3 separate regions of the Homo sapiens genome follow, and regions 1 and 3 are each linked to region 2. The links come from fine-mapping of genetic effects on gene expression. A gene starts in region 2. Each other region holds a variant in brackets. All regions are shown on one strand. Distances are from middle to middle. Region 1 holds the start of PROK2 (prokineticin 2). Region 2 holds the start of EIF4E3 (eukaryotic translation initiation factor 4E family member 3). Region 3 holds the start of GPR27 (G protein-coupled receptor 27).

What was found.
Region 1: its variant is fine-mapped to the expression of EIF4E3 in whole blood (INTERVAL, PIP above 0.99).
Region 3: its variant is fine-mapped to the expression of EIF4E3 in whole blood (INTERVAL, PIP above 0.99).

Annotation. Positions count from the first base shown.
Region 1 is chr3:71,782,368-71,790,548 of GRCh38, reverse strand. PROK2 (prokineticin 2) reads left to right here and starts at 5,401. Exons shown (of 4, transcript NM_001126128.2): 1 at 5,401-5,592. The coding sequence starts at 5,497. LOC105377156 (a long non-coding RNA gene) reads right to left here and starts at 5,159. Exons shown (of 4, transcript NR_199161.1): 1 at 5,026-5,159; 2 at 4,802-4,913; 3 at 4,516-4,612; 4 at 4,122-4,332. The variant A/G (reference allele first, on the strand shown) is at 3,491.
Region 2 is chr3:71,721,217-71,729,397 of GRCh38, reverse strand. It overlaps EIF4E3 (eukaryotic translation initiation factor 4E family member 3), which reads left to right and starts at 3,996. Exons shown (of 7, transcript NM_001134651.2): 1 at 3,996-4,206. The coding sequence starts at 4,031. RefSeq lists silencers at 4,272-4,341, 4,472-4,591.
Region 3 is chr3:71,751,002-71,759,182 of GRCh38, reverse strand. It overlaps GPR27 (G protein-coupled receptor 27), which reads right to left and starts at 5,328. Exons shown (of 1, transcript NM_018971.3): 1 at 2,687-5,328. The coding sequence starts at 5,133. The coding sequence ends at 4,006. It also overlaps a transcript of EIF4E3 not described here. The variant A/C (reference allele first, on the strand shown) is at 3,287.

The sequences.
Region 1 (8,181 bases), 61 kb before region 2:
GAAAGAGCAGTCTGACAAGGAGAAGATCCAGGACAAATTTCCCAAAGTGGGAGCATGCCCTGAGTGTTCTAGAAACCTCCAGGGGGGCAGTGTGGCAGGAGCAGAGCTGGCAGGAAGACAAGAGGTAGGAGTAGTAAACAAAGTCAAAGATCTGAAGGTCTCTGCGAGAGAAACGAGAAACTACTGCAGGGTTTAGAGCAAAGAGTCTAACTTACTTTAAAAAAAAATAGGTGTTGATGATAGAATGTAGAGGGCAAGGGTGAACCCGGGAGGCCAGTCTTGAGGCAATGACAGTGACAGTAATCCAGGCTGGAGGTGACAGGGGCTCAGAACAAGAAGGGTAGCATGACAGAGGGTTTATTATTAAAATATATTCTGTTTTATTTTATTTTGTATTTATTTATATATAAAATATTACATTATCACAAATATAATTATATTATAATAAATAATAATATAATATAATATAATATAATATAATAATATAAAGTAGATTTGCCTTCAAAAGGCAACAAGATTTTCAGACAGATGGGTCTTAGGTGTGAGAGAATGAGAAGGGTCAAAGATGACTCCAGGGTCATCTTTGGAAGGATAGAGTTGCCTTCAGTGAAAGGGGTTTGGGGGTTGCCAGAAGGTGTTGGGATGTGGACAGGTTGAGTCACACTGCAGGGAGGTCTTCCTTATGAAAGCTGCTCATGTCACACTTGCCCCATTCTTATGATTTTTCTCCTTCCCCGACCAACCATGAAGACCAAGATCTTTAGTGTGGCCTACATAAGACCCTGCAAAGGATCCCTGCCATCCCTCTGGCTCCGTATTTGTTCCAGACTTCGCTTTAGGCACATTCCTTGGGCCACATTAGCTACCCTTTTGTCTGCACTGTCTGGAATGCCCAGCCATCCTCCATGTCTGCTGTTTTATTCTTTTTTTTTTTTTTTTTTTTTTTTTTTTTTTTAAGACAGGGTCTCGCCATCACCCAGGCTGGAGTGCAGTGGTACAATAACAGCTCACTGAAGCCTTGACCTCCCAGGCTCAAGTGATCCTCCCACCTTGATTCTTCAGGTAGCTGGGATTACAGTCGCCCGTCACCACTCCCGGCTAATTTTTTAAATTTTTTTGTAGAGACAGGGTCTCCCTGTTTTGTCCAGGCTGGTCTGGAACTCTTGGGTTCAAGCGATCCTCCTCTCTCGGCGTTCCAAAGTGTTGGGATTACAGGCATGAGCCACTGCACCCAGCCCTGTTTCATTCTTCACCTCAGTTAAATTCTGCATAACCTTCAGCTCTCATCCCATATTCCAGAACTGTAAGGAAAGCTTCAGGTTTCCTCATATGCTCTCTCATAGTGACCCTAAATTTATCTTCTGTAATTATAAAGTTGTATGATTATTTGATTCATGTGCATCTTCCCATGAGATGGTAAGCTCCCAGGGGGCTGGGTTCATGTCTGTTTTGCTCACCCTCGTACCCCCAATGCTGCACACAATATCTGGAATATAGTAAGTCTTAGTTAATACCTGTTGAATGAATAAATTATGGTTTTCTACCCACCTAAAAGAAAATATTAGCTTACACATTTACTCACTTTCAGAGTCTTTGTATAATTCTGGTATAAAGAATGCTGTACTAGAAAAAATACAAAGGAAATTACACATTATTATTTATAATAGCAATTACTAATATAATTCAAAGTTCATTATGCTCATTAAGGAGTCCAAGCCATGAATGATTCATTTCCTGTAGAATATAGCACTGCTCACCTGATACCTTGTTGTCTTCAGAAACCAGTGACAGACTTGCACTGTCTGTCCCCTTGAAGACAGATTGTCATGTGGCTTGTTTTGGTCACTAAAAAGTGAGCAAAAGTGACAGGCATGAATTCCAGGCAGAGAAAGCTGGTGTACAACCCTCTGGCTGCACCCAACTATGTTAGTTTCCTGTGTCTGCCATAATGAAATCACCACAACTGGGTGGCTTAAAACAATAGAAACTTATTCTTTCGTGGTTCTGGAGGCTAAAAGTCCAAAACCAAGGGGCTGACAAGGCCGTGCTCCCTGTGAAGGATCTGGGGAAGAATCCTTCCTTGCTCTTTCAGATCCTGATGGCTGCTGGCAATCCTTGGTGTTCCTTGCCTTGTAGAAGCATTGCTCCAATCTCTGCCCCCATCTTCACTTGATGTTCTCCCGTGTGTGTGGGGGGGGTGGGGTGGGGGGAGTCTAGCCTGTGTCTCTGTATCCAGCTCTCCCTCCCATTTCTCTTATGAAGACACCAGCCATTGAATTTAGAACCCACCCTAATATAGCATGACCTCATCTTAAGTTGATTACGTCTGCAAAAACCCTATTTCCAAATAAGGTCACGTCCACAGGTACCAGGGCTTAGGCCTTGAAAATAACTTGCTAGGGGTCACAGTATAGGCCACTACACTGGCAATCATGAAGCACATGTTGAAATGGAGCCTTATCAGTCAGCCTGAGTCCCAAATTGACTGCCGTGAGACAGGCCTGTGTCTCCCAGCTCACTTCATTTCAGTCACGTGGCCCCCAAGTAAAGAGACAGGCTGAATCATCTGCACCAGGTAAAGCTTCCATCTCTCTTGCTTTTTGGTGACTACCTTTAACGGATTCATATACATGACATGAGTCTGTACTGTATATGATCTTCTCGTAACTGTCTCTGGACTGTCCTTCATGGGACATATTCCTGTTGCTGGTCACTTACTGAATGCCTGCCATATGCCTATTATCGTGCTGTGTGCCAAGAGGGATGCATAGAAAATTAGACACAAGGATCCTAATCATGAAAAGTGTACAATCTAATATAGTGGGCAGGACAGAAAAGACTTATATCAGCATTGGCTGAAATTGTCAGGGGAGACCAAATAATAAGGCTTAATAAGAGGTAACCCTAACAGAGCTCCCAGTCTGTTCCAGGCACTGTGATAAGCATTTTGCAGGTATTATTAAATTCCATAGGGGTTGTACCCCATGAGGTTGGTATTTTATAACCATTTTACAAGACCGGAAACAGAGGCTTCAAAAGGTTGTGTAACTTGCCCAGTGGTCACACAGGATTCCAATCCTGATCAGCCTGTCTCACAAACATTGGGTTCTATAGACGCTCCTAGATTGCATTTTCGTTTAAGCTGAGCCTTGATGGTCTGCTGGAATATGGTAGGCTACACTTTACACACACAAGGCTCATTTCACCTAATACAGTTATGCCTGGGCAGAAGTGATCATGTGGCAATATCAACAGGTTACAGTAATAGAAAAGAATCAATAAACTACTGTTTCATTTCTATGTCATTGTTGCTAAGTTGTCCCAACTACCTTTTTTAATGGACTAATCCAAACTCTTTTTTTTTTTCATTTTTCCCTTTATAACAATTGAAGTCAGACTTCATTTTTCAAACTTGGCCTCAGATACAAAGATGACATATCAAGAGCCTTCATTTCTCTCCTAAAGCATTAAAGCAATTAAAATTTCCAAA[A/G]GAACATGAAACTAAACAACCCTATTTTTAAGTGTTTCCAAACTTATTTCTTTTTTTTAAACTTGTTTCAAAACAGCCTTATGAGGACTGTTTTCCAAACAGCTGTGTAAGAAGCCAGCCACTTTTGAAATCTGATTTTTCCTGTGTAGACATATCATATTTTCTATGCTTGAAGAAGCAGGGAATACCCAAGCTGGCATTCAATAGTAGCGAATATGAAATAGACCATTAAAAGAAAGTCATAGGAATGTTAAAATCCATGTTGACTGGTTTTTACATTTACCCGGCAGCATTCCCGAGCTAGCGTTGGCATGGAGACTGGAAAAGGAAACTTTCCACAAGTCTGTCACTTGCTACTGTTTCTACTTACTCCACTGTGAGTCCAATTTTAACATTTTTTTAAGTTGAAAAAAGGGTTTGACTCCTTTTGTGTTTTCTGTTCAAGGCGTTTTTTAAACATGAGAACACGTGTGAAAAAGGTTTTTAAAAATCAGCCAAAGATTGGGGTTTCCAAATATTCAGCTGTTTAACATTCAGATAATTGCCTGCCTTCCCCCCGCTATCCCCCACATTTCGTCTGAATGCTTTGGCACGGGGGAGCCCCACAGTCTGAAAGTAACTCTGTCCCAACTCTCCTTACTGCATTTATTAAAGAGGCTGAAAGACGCATCTGCTTTTCAATAGTTTGCGGTTCTTAAGAGACCAGGAAAGCCAGAGGTTCTGACTATTCAGGAAGAAAGTTGGGTTTCCCAAAACGGGCAAGCAAGTTCGGTGTGGTCACATCTAGGTATTCTTGACGTCATTTTTGTTGAGGGAAACAGGCTGCAGTTTTTGGAGCCAGGCTAGGATGAGAGATGGAGGGCAAATCTGTCACTTATTCTTTCCTGGTGTGCCTGGAACCCACTAGACACTCAATTCATGTTTACGTGAATGAAGGAATCACAATAACGCCCTATCGCATCTGTAAAACCGAAGGGTGATTTTCCTGGGCTGGAAAGTTTAAGAAAGAAGAGAGAGCTGCGTACCTAGGGCTTAAGGGGCCTCAGGCTGGCACTCGAAACCAGGCGTTCTCATTTCCCTTTGGCATCACCCTGAACGGCTGTGCCTGGAGCTGGCGCGGGGCTGAAGAGGGGAGGAAATACATGTGAGGAAAATCAGAGGAGAGGGTCGGGAACAGATGTGGGCATAAAGGGAAGGCCTCTGACTTGAAATAAACAAATAGGAGTCCCGCAGCTGGAAGGACAAATCCTTTCACGTCGCGGGTGATGTGGGATTGGGGCGATTTTGCTCTCCCTTTGTTCTTTCCCCTGCCTTCCACGTTTCCAGGGTATTTGATTGATGTCTGTCTTCTCTGTTAAGTTATTCCACCGTGAGGAGAGAGCCGGTGGCAGTACCTGGCACGCAGCGGGCGCCCAGTATAGACCTGCTGAACAAACGAATGGATTCAGGGGCTGCTGTGTCCCCCTCACCCACCCCCCGCCCCCTATGTGTCCACAGCGCCCCGCACGTAGTAGGCGACCCCTAAACATCTGTACAGCAAATGATTTGCAAGTTTTCGGCGCTGAGCACGTGGAGCTTTGGAAACCAGGACAGCAAATGAGTGTCTCGGAGACCACAAAAGCGGTTCCGGCGCGTGCGAAAGGCGGTGGCTGGGCGACGGCGGAGGGAACGGCGCAGAGCGGGGCGCCCCGCCGGGAGCGCTGCCTGCGTGGCGCCCGAGGCGGGGGCGCGGGGGGCCGCGCATAGCACGTGCTCGTCTGGGAGCCGGCCGGGCCGAGGCGGGCGCGCGTGTGCGCGTGGGGCGTGGGGTGTGTGCCCGCGCCGTGCCCCCCGCGTGTGCTGCCGGGCGGGCGCCGGCGTGAGTCACGGCGGGGCTAGCCTTTATAACGGCCCGGAGGCTCGCGGGAGCCGCCGCGCCCGTCCGCCCGCCGCTCCGCGCTCCACCCAGCGCACCCGGGCCCCGCGCCCCCAACTGCCTCCGGCGGCCGCCCAGTCCCGAGGGCGCCATGAGGAGCCTGTGCTGCGCCCCACTCCTGCTCCTCTTGCTGCTGCCGCCGCTGCTGCTCACGCCCCGCGCTGGGGACGCCGCCGTGATCACCGGGGTAAGCGGCCCGGGCGCACCTGTCTGCCCCTGATGCGCGCCTGGGATGTGCCCAGGGGGCTTGGGACGGGGACCCTGAAGGGCAGGCTAGAGGCAAAGGGAGGGTCGCCCTGGGCGGGGACACCTGCCCCTGTCGCCCCTTGGTGCACTTGGGAAAATACCCAGATCCAAAAGCAGCAGACGGCTGGGGACACTGGGCGCGTCCTGGAAGAAACAGTGACAAGGATGTCGCCCACCACCTTTATTACCACCTTCTCCCGCTTACTTCTCCCTCATCACCCACGGCCTCACTCCTCGCATTTTTCTTCTGTTAGGCTGAAAGAAGTTTCTCTCTGAGTCTTCTCAAGTACTTTTGGAGGCTCTCCAACCTCGAACCTTAAAATTTGACGGCCCCTTCCTGAAATGCAAAGGACCAAGACGAATTCCCCAAGTGCCCAGAGTCTTAATCCTACAGTCAAAGAGTTTGCTCCCCGATGCGTCCTCCGCAGAAACCCTTTGAAATCGCTTGGTCCAGGGCCATGTGAGCGCTTTGAAAAGCAATTGTGGGAGCTTCCTTCTGGGTTCCGGGGCTTTCCCCCGCGCTCAGGGTCTTGAGGTATCCCCATAAAAGTTTTAAATTTCTAATTCCTGGCAAAGCACCTCCAGTGCTCCAGCATAATGATGGAGTAGGTTGCTGTGTAGATGTTTAAACTTAGAGACGATGTTTTCATCTTTTCTGTAAGTAGGAACTAGTTCAGTTCTCTCCCACTCTCAACAATTTTGTGTGGATCTGAAAAAATTGGGTTTGCAGTACAATACTAAATAGTCTAGTTTACATTAACAAGGCAAAACTGCTATCATTTCCTGGTTGTTCAACTTCTTTACTGTTTTTTAAGTGAGGAATTATTTCACACCTTCATTAAATTACTTCAAATATTTAAGTGCACATAATGGGATTTAAATAAAACGTCTATGTTTGAAATGTTGATACATAGATAATATCATTTGACTTTAAAGGAAGTATCTTTGTCTTGAAAAAATCAAGCTCTATTTTCTCTATATTAGTTATTAGGTTTATAGAATTTTGAAAGTCCTTTTGCTATGACAGCATTTGTATATATCCAACAGATATTTAACTGTAAGCTCTGTGATATTTATTAGAAAAGAGATTTTTTCAAAAAATTACTTGCATAGCTTTGCCAGTCCATGTGGTTGAGAAAAACTTTTTGCAGGTCTTTCTAATACATGAGAATTGAAACATGATTGGATTTTTTTCTCCCTCTTCTCCTGCTGGCTCATTTAAAGTTTCTCCTAATCCTCTGAGCCCAAGATCCCTTTGCAATATAAGTATCTTTTTGTTCCATTCACAGGACAACACTATCTGAATAGATTTGCAATGGGTTAAGGATGAAGGGCATTAGGAAACAGCTGTCTAATTAAAAATATATAAACCTATGCAACTCTTTGTAAATTTTCCAAGAACTGAAGCTTTTGTTACAAAATAAAATTTTATCACATTGGCTGTCTATCTGTTAGAGAGGCTTAGACTGGGCTTATTATATAGTTATGTGTGCTGTTTTTGTTGTTGTTATTTTAACTCAGTGTTACAAAAAGAGAATTTTAAAAATGTCTCTAAAGCAACAGGGCAATAAAATGTAGTTATGTCTCCATGACAGGAACCATCTGGATTCAAATGAAAAACTCAGTAACTTATCAAGATACATTGTGTATAGCATGTTAAACATCCAGGTGATTGAATTTTAAAAGATTTTGGCTGGATTTTTGATTGGTTCATAAAAAAAAGCTCATGGGGCCTCAAAATTCGAGGTATTGAGCATCTGTTGAAATAAAATGCTGGCTAAAACTTTCACCTGACATCCACAGTTTTTTGGGTAGTGTATGTAGGTATTTTGAAATTGATTTATATGCCCACATAGATTTGTTAAAACTATATTGTAAAAGATCATTGACTAGACATCTTATTTATGGGATGTAATGGCTACATATACATGATTTCTGGCATGCAGATAAAAATTGGAAAATTGAAACATTTACATATTGTCCTATAAAATCCAAACACCTCAAGGTGAAATTTTTAGCTTTTATCCAGATACTTTGTTTAAATAGACTGAGAAATAAATTCTAATGAGGGAAGTAAATGAACTTTAAAGCAAAATAGTTGGTTACTTTTAATGAGAAATAATGTTAAGAATGTACCCATATTTTTATATCTTGAGAAGTTATGACTGTCCTCAAAACTAAGAATTTTGAAGGACTGTTTTAGTTGTTTCCACTAATTGTACATTTAAATTTGTGCCTAGATGATAGAGGTTTTAGTTTCTTACATATATAGTACAGGATGTTTTTATCTTATCACTACCAAAACAGATTACTGCCCACGGTTCAAACAAAGCATTCTATTTTTTGTTGGTTCTAGGAAAGAATAATAGTTCTTCAGATCCATTTTCATGCAAATAGATTTAGATTTTATTATTTATTTCTATTTACTAGAGTATGGAAATTCCTCCATAGTTGATTGTTTCATTGTATGTATTTACAACTTTTATATTGAAAGCAGGTGACTTGAGTAATTACTATTGACAATTGCACC
Region 2 (8,181 bases):
AAGGCTCCCTTCCCAAAGTGTTGAGACAGAGGCCATCAATGGAGGGAATGTCACTAGCTAACTCTGTGGCTGTGTGACTTCCAGTGTCCCTGAACCTCAGGTTCCTCATTGGGTAAAGGAGGAGACTGAGTTAGGACCCCTGCCTTCCCTTCCAACGTCATCATTCTGCTGTTCCTGTGACTCCCAGGGAGCAGATGTGAGTAGAAGAGAGAGGACCACTTGTTGCTAGGCAACCAGCACCCACCTCACCCATGTTGCCATGGTGATGATGAAAGTTGGGCTGATGGGATTACCAGCTCCTGCTAATTGCATATGAGTGCTCAGGTTTCTGTCTCTTTCTTGCCTGCTTGCTCGCTCTGACTTTCTCATTCTTCTAGGAACTGTAGAGCGATTTCCCCCTCTCCTCCATCTGCAGCCTCCCTGAGGCAGCCCTAGTGCAATGGAAAGCAACTGGGAATGGAGCCTGGCTGTGTGTCTGAATAGCTGTGTGACCTTGGGCAGGTTACCCAGCTTCTCTGGGCCTTTCTTTTCTCATTTGGAAAATGAAGGTGTTGGAAAAGTGATCCCTGTCTAAGGTTCTTCCCGGCTCTCAAATCCTTTGATGCCTAGGGAGCTTGTCAGGGGAGCAGACCACACTGTTACTAGGCAACCAGCAGGCACCCTGCCCAAGTTGCCTTGGTGACTGGATGCTGGAGGGGAGGGGAGTAGCTGCTGCAGCTAATTGCTTAATTATTTATGAGTGCCTCAAGTCCTTCTTGTTGTTTTTGTTGCTAGGGGCTGTGGGGTCACCTTCTCTTCCTCTCTTCTGCCACCCCAAGTCGTCTGTGTTGCGTGTCATGCAGTGGGACAGCACGTTGGTCCGGACCTCAAGCTACCCACGTTCTAGTCCCGCCTCTGTCATTTCCTAGAGCTGTGGCCTCGGGTAAGTCACCTCACCTCTCTGGGCCTCAGTTTCCTCATTTGTAAAGTGATGGGTTTGCTTAGATGATCGCTGAATCCCCTTTCTACCTTGAAATTCTAGTTCCTGCCATCCAGTTCCCAGATGAGGGAAATTTCCCCAATTTATTATCTTCTAAGAATGATTCTGAAGAGCAATAAAAATAATTAAGTCTCTTACATATTTCAAACAGGAAGGGAATGAAAGTTGTGACCATTGTTCCCTCCTTAGCCATTTTGTATAATCTCTTTTATTAATCTTAAGGTCATTTAAATTTTATCTATTCATATATACCACCTACTTCCAAAATAAATTTGAGGGGTTCAGTGTAAGGTGCATATATGCTATTAGGTCTTTAAAATAGAAATAGGAATAAATATAAAAATAGTGATGCTTCTTCATTGGCTAATATTGGTGCTGTGATTGAGCACCAAATGTAATTATGAGCAGCCTGGAAGCCAAAGCAAAAAGAGAGAAAGGTATATAATTGCTATTCAGTAAAGAAAAACTGCCAGACTGTTCCTAGTTCTAAATTCTGGAGGGAATTTTTTCATGTGGTACACAATCCTTTTACAGAAACTGCAGATAAAAATTCTTGACTAGCCCTTTTTTGCTGAGGATATTGTTAAAGGACATAAGGAAGGAGCTAAACTTGACAGTTTGACTAGCTTTAATCATTAGAAAGCAAAACTTCCTTTCTACCCATGCCTTGGAATTTTATACAGATATGTGTCACTTCGTAAATATAAATTTTCAGAATCAACCATTATTTATATATCAGCTATATATAAATTCATGTAACCACTTTGCAAAGCAATTTGGCAATATGTATCAAATTTTTAAATGCAGCCAACAATTCTTCTCCAAACTTATTCTGAGATTAGCTTGTGTAGATGAAGAAAGCCATAAATATAAAAATACTTATGGTAGCATTATTTATATAAGAAAATGTCTAGAAACCACATAAATGTTGGAGGCTAGTGAATTAAATTATATTACCTCTTTACAATGAATTACTTTGCAGCCCTTAAGATAAAGTAGATCTATATGTTTTGATATGGAAAAATCTTCAAGGATATAATGTTAAGTGAAATAAGAAGGTACAGCATTGGTATTAAATGCTTCCATTTTGGTTATAAAAAAGATATAGATTTATAACTTATGAATCTAGATATATGCTTGCATGTGCATACTTGCATTTTTCTGGAAGGAAACTGTTGCCAGTGGTTTCCTCTGGGAATGAAGATTGATAGTCTTGGGAGGGAGGGAGACCTACTATTCACAGCTTGTTTTTACGTTGTGGACTTGTTAGTGTTCTGTGTAGAGAGGTAGGAGAGTCTGGCAGTTGAAAGTCTAGACTCTGGAGTCTGAATACCTATGTTCAAATCCCAGCTGTCCCACTTACTAGCTCTGTGACCTTGGGGTTATCTTAATCTTATCTCTGTTCCTCATCTGTAAAATGGGTTAATAGTATCTTCCTCATTGGCTTATTGTAAGGATTAAATGAGTTATTACGGGTAAAGTGCTCAGAGCAGTTTAAACAATGCCATATACCACGCTTCTTGGAAAAATGAAAGGAGATATTAAGCAACAAGATAAATGCATCTAACCAAAAGCACCCTCCCCTGTTTTAGTGTTGGACAGATTTTATAAAATCTGTCATTGCTTCCAGCATTGTATGTTGTATAGAAGTTAAGTTTAAAGCAGCGGTCTTGTTTTTATTATTGTCACTTTATGTGACCTTGATTACCTTTTAGGGAGGGCATCTACTCTGGGATTCATGACAGTCTGCTATGATGCTGTTGATGCCCCTGAACTCATCTTGTTTTGTAGCTCTTCCATCCCAGCGAATGCTCAAGGCATGAACAGAACACATGCTAGGCCAGGTAGAAGGTCAATGAGGAGATGGCATCCCACGCCCTTCACTGTTCAAAGCCAGAGAGGAACTATCTAGAAATTCAAGTGTAAAGAGGATGTCCATGCTGGTTGTGACATGTGTGTTCACAGGCCTCATGCCTTTGCTTTTCTTTTGAAAAAGAAAGTGACAGAGACCTGGGGAGATGCTGTGTTAGGAGGGCCCCTCCTACTTTGGGCTCAGGAATCTCACCGCCTAAGGGACTTCCTGGGTGCTCAGAGGTACAGGAAGCAGAGCGCTCTGTGTTCACAGGTGCCCGCTTTCCTCCTCCCGACTCGCCGGTGCTTTAGGGCAGATCTGGATACTTTGGCTGATTTTGGGAAATGTTCTCTGAAGTTAGCCACACGTTAAGCCAGGCTTGAGGCCTTCACTGTGGTCACATGGTAGCTCCAGAGGTTGGGATGGGGGCTCTGGCCCCTTCAAATCAGCGGAGTTAGGAAGTATGCTCTCACCAAGAGGAATGCAAAGCCCACCTGCTCCAACCTCATGCCCCAGTCGGTGGTTCTCTTGTTCGTTCTTCTTTCTCGCCCTTTGTTCTGTACTCGCGGGCACTGGAGTCTCTTTATCCATTTGGCCATCGGTTCCCCTCTCCATTTATCTGTCACACCCAACTGTGCTTCCATCTGCCCTCCATCCCTCCTTCTCTCCTCCAGCCATCTGCCAGCCTTCACTCCATCCTTCTGACTGCTGGTATGTCTGTCCATCCCTCCTTCCCTCGCACCACGTGGGTCTGGGGCTCCATCCCCTGTCCCATCCATCCCTCCATCTGTCCCTAGCCTGCCGCTCCATCCCGCTGCCCTTTTGCATGGCTGCAGAGCCAGCCCGCAGACCGTTCCCCGGTCCCTCTCACCCCCGTGGGCCCTCTAGCCCGTCCCCGGCCGCCACTCCAGGCCAGGCCGTCAGTCTCCCACGCTGGGCCCGCGCCTGAGCGGGATCGGCCCCCCATCCCTCCGTGGGTCTGTCTTTGTTCGGCGGCCCCGGCCCGGCCGTGCCTCCCACGGCCCCTCCGCGCGGCTCCCAGGCCCTGAAGGCGGCGGGCGGCGGGCGGCGGGCGGCGGGCGGCTAGCCCGGGGCGGGGCGGGGCGCGCGGGGCGGGGCGGGGCGGGGGCCGGGGGTGACTCAGCCGCGCTCGCCCCGCGGTCCGCGCGTCCGCCGGCCTTGCAGGCGGGGCGGAGAAAATGGCGCTGCCCCCGGCCGCCGCGCCCCCCGCCGGGGCCCGGGAGCCGCCGGGGTCCCGCGCCGCCGCCGCTGCCGCCGCCCCCGAGCCGCCGCTCGGCCTGCAGCAGCTGTCGGCGCTGCAGCCTGAGCCGGGCGGGGTCCCGCTGCACTCGTCCTGGACCTTCTGGCTCGACAGGTGAGGGGGCGCGGGGCCCGCCGCGCACGGCCCCGACCCGGGTCCTGCCGCCACCGCCGCTTTGTCTCGGCGCGGCCCCTCGCCCCGGCCCCGCTCCGCTGTGGCACAGACCTCGGCCCCTCCGCGCGTCCGCCTGCGCACCCCGGGACTCGCCCCGCCGGGTCGGAAGCCAGCTTCGGGCCGCGCCGGGCGGCTGTTCGGCGTCCTCGCCTCCGGGCCGGGGGAGGACAGCGCAGCCCGAAAAGTTTCGGCAACACTTTCTACCCCTTGTTCCCTTCCGATCGGAACGCGGCGTGCTGGCAGGGCCGTGGGAGAGGGTAGGCGAGCTGGGGGTGGCCGCGTCCCTGCTGCAGGGAGAGGGCTGTCCTGCTTACCCCGCGGGGCGCCTGGGAGCTCAGGACACGACCTCAGCTGTGACAGCGCTCGGAAAAGTTGCCCATCCCTTGGGAGGTGTGCGGTGGTGCAATGATTATTGCACGGCGGGCGCTCCCACCCCGTGTCCGGCCGCTGCTGCCGTGGACTCCTCTTCCAGTTCTTCCTCATCCACTGGGCAGGTATTTCCTGAACACCTACAGTGGAGCCACACACCTGCTATGCGCTGGAGATTCAATAATGAGCAGCAGCTGACCTTGTCAGGAAGGGGGTGAATTATGGCTTTCTCAAGGGACAACCCAGGTGCCATCTTTTCAGAAAGACCCCCTGACTACCGTATCTAAAATAGAAACCTTGCTCCCTCGTTTTGTATTCTCCTGCCCTGCCTTCTTTTTCTTCCTAATGCTTAATGCAGCTGGATTTTATTATATATGAATTTGTTTACTTTCAGTCTGTCTCCCCAGCTCCTCAACACCTCCCCTCAGTTAAGGATAAAAGAGCAGTGGATTTTTGTTTTTGGACATTTTGGACCTAGAACTGTGCCTGGTCCCTAGTAAGAACACCAGAAATTGTTATGAATGAATAGATGGATGAATGCAAAGCCCCTTCTTAGTGTCTGCCCTGCAGTGGGTGCCCAATGATGACACCTCAAGGTTGTCCCAAGAGCATTTGGAAATTTTGATGAAACCGTGTCTATTCTGGCTAAGTGTTAGGAAGAAATGTGTGACAGTGTTCTGAGAAGTTTGCTTGGTACACACAAATCTGGTTTTAAAAGGCTTTGCATAAAATGACTGCAAGATTTTGTTTTAAAAAAGTGATATTCATTTTTTTTTTGGTTAAGACAAGCTCATTTCTTTTTTCCTTTTGGGTTCTTATAGCACCCGTCTATAAGAATTGTCACTTGCTGCCATTTTCTTTGCCGGAGACCCAAAAAAGTTGGGGGTGGGGGAGATGGAGTGAGTTTCGTTCTTTCAAAACATTTTCACTTTCATTATGGGATGCTAAGAGAGCATTATACTGTCATAACAAGCGTGCTTTTGGCAGACCTTAGCAGAATGAAATCGTGTCTGTTTTCATAGGTGTGCTGCAACTGTGCTATTGTTACCTGGTATCTGTTTTCAAGGTGTTAAACCTGGACCTGTGGTCTAAATTGTGAATACTGCTGACTGGTGGAAACAGTATCAAGAGAGTTTCTTTTTAAACAGGTCTAAAATTAGTTTACATGTAGGAACAACACTTTTAAGGACTGGTCTAAAATGTCAATACTACAGATAACACAATCTTTTAAGACTAGTAGCTTAAGATTATAGTAACTTTAATGAAGACAAAAACTATATCTATACTATTGATTTACACATTTTTGTTCTCTAAAGGTCGATCATCAAATGAAATACATTATTGCCACAGTGTCCAGATCTTTAATAGAAATGGCTGTATTAATTTAGAAATTATAATGAGTTCCAATATTGTACATATGAATTCATTTTGCCCGATCAAACAACTCATAATTTTTATTGAACTTTTTCTCCTTCTGTGGGAATCCATTACCTTTATATAGGGTGCCCCTCTCCCCCTTGAGGTTATGAACACATTATGATCTAGAAGTTCATTAGTAACTTTTCTCCCCAGGTAAACAACATTCTAGAGACTGGTGAGGTTCTCAGGAGAGCCCTCCAAGGCAGCCTTACCTGCAGCATAGCCAATGTCTGCCTGGCAAGATGACATCGGTTTTTGAGTTCCATAGCATGCAAAGGCCTCTTGCTACTTAAAACTCCCCTTTGGCATCCTACCTCCCGGCCTGTCCTACTTTCCAGCCTACTGTGTGCTGATGAGCAAGCCATCTAGCTGCCCCAAGCCTCACTTTCATTGTAAAATGGGATAGTCATAGGCTATGTCTCACAGGGCAGTTCTGAGGATTAAATGAGAGACATGATGTACAACACCTAACAGGTGCCAGCTGGTAGAAGGAGCTTCCTAAGCATAAACTACTAACACTGTCATTACCATGCTCCCCAGCTACCAACCCCTCCCCATACCCACACCCCAACAAACAGTCTCTGGAGCAGCTTGTCTGAATTCTGTGTTGGGAAGCCAGAAACCTAAATTCATTCCCCTCACTGGATGAGTTGGAGAACTCCTCTGTAAAGTTATTAGTATTTTTAATAGTCAACTCCAATAAGTCCTTATTTGGTTAAAAAATTAGACTGTATGGTTAAGGATTTCGGCATTTGAGGAAGGTAATTTTAGATTGGGGGTACAGGCTGAAGAGTTTTTCTCCCCTTTTCTGGACATTTAAAACTATCCTGTCTTGATTCTTGGAAGCCACTCTGGGTTATGTGTCTCTAACTGCTTCCTTTTGATCTTATGGTGACCCGCTCGCCTCTGAGTTTTTTCCCACAAGACTCAGGCCTCAGGCCTCTTCTTTGTGCCATTTACACCAGGGATCTCATCCAGTCACAGTGCTTTCAGGTCCACCTGAATTCTGGTGACTCTCAAAACCTTACACTCTTAGATCCAGTGCTCCTTCCCCTTTGTCTCCATGGATGTCCAATGTAATACACAACCAGACTCAACATATACTGAACTACCTCCTCAACTGCCTTCCCAAACTTGTTTCCTTCTATCTGTATCTCAGATAAGAGCAGTTAAGAGCAAGTCTATCCTTCCAGTTGCCCAGCCCAGAAATCTTAGAGTCATCTGTAACCACCTCCCACCCCCGCCCCCCCGAGGAAAAGCCAAAGGGCTTACAGGAACCATAAAGCTTTGCAGCTCTTCCTGCCCCACCCAGGACCCTTTTCTCCCTTGTCACTCTCCCTTCTGCCATGCCCTTCTTTCTGCTCATCGGTCCCCTTGCTCTTTCGCCTTCATCCCAAGCAGGGACCTTAGCCACTGACACCCCCTACTGCTTGGAGTGCTCTCACCTCCATCAGTGCTTGCCCTGCTCTTTCCTGTCCTTCAAGCCTCTGCTCACATGTCACCTTCTCAGACCTTCCATATTAGTCTGTTCTCACACTGCTACGAAGAATTACCCAAGACTGGGTAACTTATAAAGGAAAGAGGTTTGACTCACAGTTCCACGTTGCTGTGGAGGCCTCAGGAAACTTACAATCATGGTAGAAGCCAAAGGAGAAGCAGGCACCTTCTTCACAGGGCAGCAGTACCAAGTGAGTGCAAGCAGGGTAAATGCCAGACACTTATAAAATCATCAGATCTCATGAGACTCACTCACTATTACGAAAACAGCATGGGGGAAGCCACCCCCATGATCCGGTTACCTTCACCTGGTCCTGCCCTTGACATATATGGGGATTATGGAGATCACAATTCAAGATGAGATTTTGGGTGGAGACACAGCCAAACCATCTTATGTTGCCTGACCACTGTTATGAAATGGCGCAAGCATCCTGACACACACACCCCGAGCCCCTGACCCTGTTTTATTTTCTCCATAGCATTACCACCATTGGCTTGTCTTCTCCCACTAGGATGTAAACCTCATGAGGGCAGAGTTCTCGTCCCGGATGCCTTGTCCTTAGCTCCTGGATTGGAGCCTAGCACAAGTCAGTCCGCACTGAATACCCTGAACAGGGTGTTGTTGAATTC
Region 3 (8,181 bases), 30 kb before region 2:
CTGTGGCAGACAAAGAGGTTTCTCCTCCATCCTGTAGGCCTTGGGAAAACAGGGTGGACTCTATCTCATCAACCCAGTGATCCACCTGCAAAACAATAACCCTGAGTCAGCCCTAGGACTTGGCACCCTGTCACCTGTTAGGGAGCAGGGCATTTGAGAATGTAGAGGGCTGATGGTGAGAACAAAGACTTCGGAGAAATAATTTTGCCGTTTTATTTCTTTTTAAAAAAGAAAGAGAAAAAAGGGAGGGAGGGAAGGAAGGAAGAAAGAAGGAAGGAAGGGAAAAGAGAAAAGGAAGAGTAGAAACCAATATGGCATTTGGTAAGGCTGAGTAGTGGACACAGAGATTATCACTGTTGTTACTGATTTGTTACATGCTTCCCCACTTTGCTTAAAATATTTCATTTAAAAAATGAATGTGTCACACCTGTAATCTCAGCACTTTGGGAGGCCAAGGCTGGTAAACCACTTGAGGCCAACAGTTAGAGACCAGCCTGGCCGACATAGCGAAACCCTGTCTCTGCTAAAAATACAAAAATTAGTTGGGCCTGGTGGCAGGCGCCTGTAATCCCAGCTACTTGGGAGGCTGAGCTGTAATCCCAGCTACTTGAACCCAAAGGTGGAGGTTGCAGTGAGCTGAGATCACGCCACTGCAATCCAAGCTGGGCAACAGAGCGAGACTCTGTCTCAAAAGAAAAAAAAAGAATATGTCAGGTGTACTGTACATTTAAACAGACATATAGACATATGGTCCTTCTACAAAACTATTTGACAAGATATCAAAAGTCCTAAAAATGCTTCTTTTGACCCAGCAATTCCATGCTAGAACATACAGACAAAGATCTATGTACGGGAAGCCTACATTGCTTCAAGTATAGTGACAACTGCGTGGGAGGGTGGGGAAGTTGTGCTAAATTAACTTCCCAAATAAATAAAATGAGCAATTTTAATGAAATCTTCCCTAAATACATGGTGCCTGTGCTGGTACAATAAGTAGAGTACTGTGGACACAACTAACCTTTTTTTTTTTTTTATAATTTTTGATTAATGTAATTAACTATCAAAGTACATGTTAATAGATTCACCAATCCTAAAAGCTGTTGGGGTGGCCCTTTGCACCTCCCCACTTTCTGCTACATAGCTTGTTTCTCTGGCTCTTTTGGTTCTCGTTTCCTTTAGTTGGCTGTTATTTCTTGCTACTCTCACCTGCACACTCACTAGAAATCTTGCCTTCCCCCATCTAATCAGAACTTTAAAACATAAAAATAAAAAACCCAGGTAGCCAAGTTTGAACGCATCATGTCTGAAGTAAATCATGTCTGAACGAAGTCCTGGAGGTCTGTCTCCAACCACCTGAGGAACCTGTTGAAATGCTTTTCCCCAGGACCCAACTCAACATGTCCTCATAAGACTCTGGATCACACAGACACTTAATTTGTATGAATGTTAGAATTTGAGAACCTCTGGCTTATGAATTCTCATATGACAAAATATCCCTTGAATTCAAGGCTATGTCAGGCCAACACGTCACCTCTGGTGCAGCTGAGCTGCTGCCCAAAGCTGGAGTGGCTCAGGAGTCAGCCATGATGGGCTGGTTCCTGTGCCATGCCAGGTGGGAAAATCACAGAGACTTGGTGATCTCTGTTTTGGGGGCTTTTTTGAGACAGGGTCTCGAGAGCTCTGTCATCCAGGCTACAGTGCCATGGCACAGTCATGGCTCACTGCAGCCTTGACCTCATGGGCTTAAGCCATCCTCTCACCTCAGCCTCCCCAGTAGCTGTGACCACAGGTGCACATTACCACACCCAGCTAATTTTTTGATTTTTTGTAGAGACATGGTCTCGCTATGTTGCTTAGGCTGGCCTCAAACTCCTGGTCTCAAGCAATTCTCCTGCCTCGGCCTCCCAAAGTTCTGGGGTTACAGGCATGAGCCATCGTAGACTGGTTCGACCTCTATTTGGAACTGAGATCACTTGGGCAGGTGGAGGGTTAGATGAGGAGAGAGGTACTTCTGGGCTCCTCTATCTTGGGGTTGGCTGAGGTTTCCGATCAGTGGCCCTTGGATGATTGAGGCCAACCTGGATTCATGATGTGGGGAGAAATAGGGTAACTGTCTCATATTTTCCAAGTGTGAGACTGTCTTCACAGACTGATTAACTTCCACAACAAAATAAAATCATGCAGCCTATTTACCAGAGATCAATTAAATTGGCCACACTCTTTTTATAACTTATTCCCATTGGACTGAACATTTAATAGTTTATATTATACTCAGCTAAATTTCAATATAATCTACCACCCCCACTTTTACCTAGTACTTTTATCAAAATGATCGCTTGTACTTGAGTTTGATATGTTTACTTAAAAGCTTTTTTATGTCATTTAACGAATAGTCATTGAAATGTTGTCATCCAAATAAAAAAACAGTTTTAAAGCCGTATATATGTCTACTGCTTCTTCCCTTTAAAGAAAAGTTTCGCAGATTTTATCTTGCATTTTAAATTAAGCCTCCACTTTTCTTGGATATGCTGATGGTCAAACTATGAAACCTGTAACTGAAGAACACGTGCTAAAAGGATCATAGAGCATGTTATCCTTACATAACATACTTAGAGGCATGTAACATACTTCGACGCATGTATTATTACAGCCTCAAACACCACCACCACCACAACAAAACAACCACTCCAGAATGAAAATACTGGTATATTTGTATAATGCAAAGAGAAATACAGATATAAATCCTCAAAACGGAAGGTACATTAATAAAAATGTAGCATTATAAGCCAAAAATATTATATAGTACTTGCAGAATTTAGTCTTTCAGTTTAACATTATAATGTCTAACAAAGAAATATTATTTAAATTATAGTTCTCATTATTAATTTAAAACAACCATCAGTAGAACAGCACAGCTTAACCTAGCAAACATTTTAAGGAAATGCTTTGTTTCCTAGAAGGAGGATATCATTATATTCCATTCATTTATACCATAAACAACAGAAGAACAATTTTCAAAGTGGAAATTAGTTTCATAAGACAGAATAAAACTGGGCTTCTCAAAGCACAAGCCATTTCCATAAAATTAATTTTTTATTGGCAAAAAATACTTAAAACAATTTTGATGTAGTACTCTGCTTCTCAGAGCCCTCCCAATCCTCGAACCACAATCTATACACACGAACACATGCAATACTGTATTTTTCTCCACATCATTACTAACCAAAACACTTTACTCTTTTAAAACTTACAACTTGACAGAAATGTTTCCATTCAAGATTGCTAT[A/C]ATACAGAGAGCAGTTGTCACTGACGTGGTTTTTAGCAGCAGAAAGTAAACCGGGAACCAAATCTTACTTGTTACTTACTGCTTTAAAAAAATGACTGCCTTGCTACTGATCTCCATCTCTGCTCTTTAAGTTCAATATCAACACTGAGACTTTCAAAGAACCAGCGCAGCACAAGGACCCTGCAGCCGGCAATTCAGAGGGCATTTCGGACAACTTCCCCCCACCCCCCACTTTCTCCTGCTTCCAACAGAAGATCCTCAAGAAATCTAACTTGTGAAGAAGTCCCCCTAGGTTCCTCTACTTCACTGCAAAATGTAATGCCACTTGAGGTTGTCAAAAATAGCTTCTGTAGAAAACTGGCCATGGTCTTTAGGAAACGTTGCATGAAGAAAATTAGTACAGCCTTTATAGAAAAAGAAAAAAAGGAACCACACATGGAATAAAAGACGTCAGTACCGCTACAAAAAGACTGCAGGGCCTATTGTCAGGAAGAAAGTCGAGTTAGGAGGACGAATGTGCGGAGCTGGAGTGGGCTGAGCATCCTACTCCTCACCCACCCCACCCCCAAAGGAGTCAGTACAATCCAAGTGTCTGTCCACTTCGAGTCATTTTGAAGGCAGCTTAGAAAATTAAACAGGGGCCAGAAGGAAAAGATACAACGTCACCGTCCGAGCCAAAGGGAAAGGCTGGGTTGGGGGTCTATGTGGCGGGGCCTCCCTCATAAACCAATGCCTTTCAGGTCGCAGGGATGGGTCGCCTGGGTGGTCCGGGGGCTCTGGCAGCAGGGGAACTGGGCCCTGAAGCAGTCCCTCAGCTCCCTGTTGAAGAGGAAGCACACGACGGGGTTGATGCCGGCCTGCGCGAAGGTCAGCCACACGGAGGCCGTCAGGTAGGCCTGGGGGACGGCGCCGGGCCGCACCAGGACCCGCAGGTAGCTGGCCACGACGTAGGGCCCCCAGAGGAGCAGGAAGAGCAGCGTGACGGCGTAGAACATCTTGCACAGCCTCTTCTCCGTCTTGAATTCTTCCAGCACGAGGAGGCGGCGCGCGCCGCGGCCCGGCCCTGCGGGCCGGATGCCCACAAGCGCGGGCGGCGTGGGCCCGCGGCCGAAGCCCGCCGTCCAGTTGGCGGCCGCCTGGCCGGTGGCGCCCGGGCCGTGGAAGGTCCAGTCGTGGCTGACGGCGGGCACCAGGCGCGCGGGCCGCATCTTGCGGCGGTCGTGGATGAAGAAGAGCAGGCGGAGGTAGACGAGGTGCGTGGCGCCCACCACCACGGCCAGCAGCAGCAGGAAGCCCAGCGCGCCGGGGGCGCCGTCGGGCCGCTGCTCCAGGGCGCACGGCGCGTCCTCGTCGTCGCCACCGCCGTCCAGCACTGGCGGGAAGGCCGCGGCCAGCGCCAGCGCCCAGGCGGCGCACACCAGCATGGCGGCGCACGGCCAGCCGGCCAGGCGCTCTGCATAGAAGCGGTGGTGCGCGATGGCCAGGTAGCGGGTGACGCCCACGCCCAGCAGCAGGAAGGCGGCGTGGAAGCAGAAGAGCGCGGCCAGGAAGGCGAGCAGCTTGCAGCCCAGCGCGCCCGGCGGCGCCCCCGCCGCGGCCGCCGCACGCCGCGCCGCCAGCATGACGGCCGGGAGGCAGGCGAGCGCGCGCAGCCCGTCGGCCAGGCACAGGTCGAGCAGCAGGTAGTACGGGGCGCGGTGCAGGCTGCGCTCCCGCACGATCAGCAGCGCGAACAGCACGTTGCCCGCTAGGCTCACGCACAGCAGCAGGCTGAGCGTGGCCAGCTTGAGGCCCAGGGCGGCCGCCTCGCCGCCGCCGCTGCCACCCGGCTCGCTCGCGTTCGCCATCGCGGCCTCACCAGGCCGTGCGCTCCGCCCCGGGGCCGTCCCCTGCCTCGCCGCTCCCGCAGGCCGCCCGGCCCGAGCTCCGCCGCTCCGCCGGCCCTGGGCGAGCTCCCCGTCCTGCGGGGCTCAGCCCGCTCCCGGCCGGCCCCTCCTGGGCTCCCCGAGCCGCCGCTGTGCCGCCGCCGCCATCTCAGGAATGGTGCGCGCAGGAGGAGGCGGCCACTCCCTGCGCCCTAGGCGCCGCGGGCTTCACTGCGGACAGGGCCTCGCCACCGTCCGCAGCCCCCCGCATCCTCCTCCGTCTCCTCCTACTCCTCCGCTGCTGCCGCCGCGCCTCTTGGCTCTGCCCCCCGCCGGGCCCGCCGCCGCCGCTGCCGCCGCTGCCGCCGCCGCCGCCGCCGCCGCGGAGCCCCCTCCCCTCCGCCGGAGCGCGCAGCGCGGCCGCCGCCGCCAGCCCCGCCGAGGCATCCCGCACCGCCTGGGCCCGGCTGGGCTGGGGGCGCCTCCGCAGCAGCCGCGGGGTCGGGAGGCGGCCGGGAGGGAGGCAGGGCCCAGGACGCAAGGTGGCGACAAGTCGCGTTTGGCCCCAGGTAACGGGGGTCCGGCGGCGGCGCCCGCGCTGGGGTCACGGTGGCCGTGCGCGGGGGAGGTTGCCTGGGCTGGCAGGGTCGGGAGGCCTCAGAGGGGACAGGAATATCTGGAATGAGCCTTCTGCCCGAAAGCTGGGAGTAATTTACGATAGTAATAGTCATCGTAATCCTAAAACCGCTGATACTCAGGTGCGCACTGATGTGGGTGGCAGTGTGCTGGGGAGCTTGGCAAGCATTATCTCCCTCAACAGTAATCACGAAGTTGTTGCCATCCTTAATCCCACTTTATACCTCAGGAAGCAGAGGCTTGGAGGTCAAGGGAGTTGAGAGCCGGGAAGTAGCGGAGCTGGGATTCAAATTTCGCTTGGTCTGATTTCCAGTGCTGGACTCACAGCGACTCCGCAGCATCCCCTGCTCGCTAACTCATCCGTGATCCCGGTGAAGGACCTATATCAGGGAAAAGAAATGCAGCATTTCATCTTTAAGTGACTTGGAAGGTGAACCCTATGCCACCTTCCTCCCAGGATATCTATTTTCTGGGTAAGCCTGAAAGGGCAGCCCCTGTTATGATTCTCAGACACACCGCATTTGTCTCGCAGGACCTTGCATGTGCTGGTACCTCTGCCTGGACCAGCCCCACAACAGGCTCCCTCTCCGTAGGGCCTCCTTCTAACCCGTCTGTTTTACTCTGTATCCCTGCCCTCTAGTCATTTCCTTCTTAGCACTTATAATTTGTCATTATATACTTTCATTTCTTTTTAAAAATCATGCTCTTCTAACTAGGCTCTAAGCTCTTTGAAGGCAAGGGATCATGCCTGGTTTTTGGTACCACTGCATCCCCAGTGCTTAGCATGGTAAAGCCAGAATTAAGCAACGCATTGTTTCTCACCCACACTCATTTGTTTTTTCTTCTGTGCAGAAAATTATTTGTTGCCTACTGATTACATGCAAGGCAGGCACCTTGATGGGCATTTTCAGGATAGTGCAAGATCATAGAGGGCCTTAATGATCAGGCTAAGAAGTCGAAACTTTAGTCTGCAGGCAGTCAGGAGCCCTTGAAATCTTTTGAGAAGGGGAGCGACATGACTAGGTGTGCTCCAGGAACATTATTCTGGCAGCAGTGTTGAGGAGGGATGACAGAGCAGAGCCGGTAAACCTAGTCCAGAGCCTCAAACTTCACTATGTGCAGAAATCACTGGGGACCCTGTTAAAATGAAGATTCTGATTTAGTAGTTCTGGAATGGGGCCGGAGGTTCTGCATTTCTAACAAGCTCCGGGGTGAGACTAATGCTGTTGGTCTGCTGACCTTACTTTGAATAGTAAGGCCCTTGGGGACAGTTTGGATATTTTTTTAAAAATCTAAGTGATTTTTCAAGAAAATCAACTATTGAGCACCTGACTTGGGACTCCTAAGTGGCCAGCAGCAAGTGGCTGACCAGGCACATCTGTAAATGTATGTTGATAGAAAATAGATTTTGGAGGGTGTATGGGTTAGGAATTGCAGTTTGATACTAGTAGCAAAAAACGTGTACATGAGTTTATTTTCCTCGTGAAAGAAGAAGTTTGGAGGTCAGTAGTTGCTGACATTGATTTATTGGCTCAAGGACTGAATCTCTGAAAATCTTTTAGCCCTTCCCTCATGATCACAGTAGGCTGCCGACGCCCCAGCCATCATTTCTTCATTCCAGGCAGAAAGAAGAAAAGGGAAAAGAGCAGCAATATTCCAGCCATCTAAGTAGGAAGAGCTTTCTAGAAGCCCTACATTATAAACAAACACTTAAACATATCATTGGCTATCAATTGAGAGTGAGCACTTGAGCAAGGGAGGGTAGGAAATGGTTTCTTATTTCTTTGTTTAAAGTTAGACCCATGGCTGTAGAGAATTCGATCCTGCCTTGCTGTGGCCCTTAGCGCTTGGGCTGCCTCTGCCCAGAGGAGGGAATGCCTTCTTAATAACCCACACAAATTCACCAACTCTGGTTGCTTTATGGTAATACTAATGGCAGCCACCTTTTACTGAGCACTTGCCGTATGCCAAGCATTGTGCTAAATTCTCGACATGTGTTATTTAATGTAATCATTGTAATGGCCAGATGTGGTATGTGCTGTTACTGTCTTCATTTTGCAGAGGAGGCAGAAGGGTTAATTTGTTCACGCTTTCACCACTTACACTTACTTTACACTTACTTTCAAGTAAGTGTAAGAGCTGGAAGTCTGACTTTATTTATTTTGAAACAGGGTCTCACTCTGTCACCTAGGCTGGAGTCAGTGGCATCATCATGGCTCACTGCAGCCTCAACCTCCCAGGCTCAGGCCGTCCTCCTATCTCAGCCTCCTGAGTAGCTGGGACCACAGGCTTATACCACCATGCCCCGCTAATTTTTAAAAAATTATTTGTAGAGGCCGGATGCGGTGGCTCACACCTGTAATCCCAGCACTTTGGGAGGCCGAGGCGGGTGGA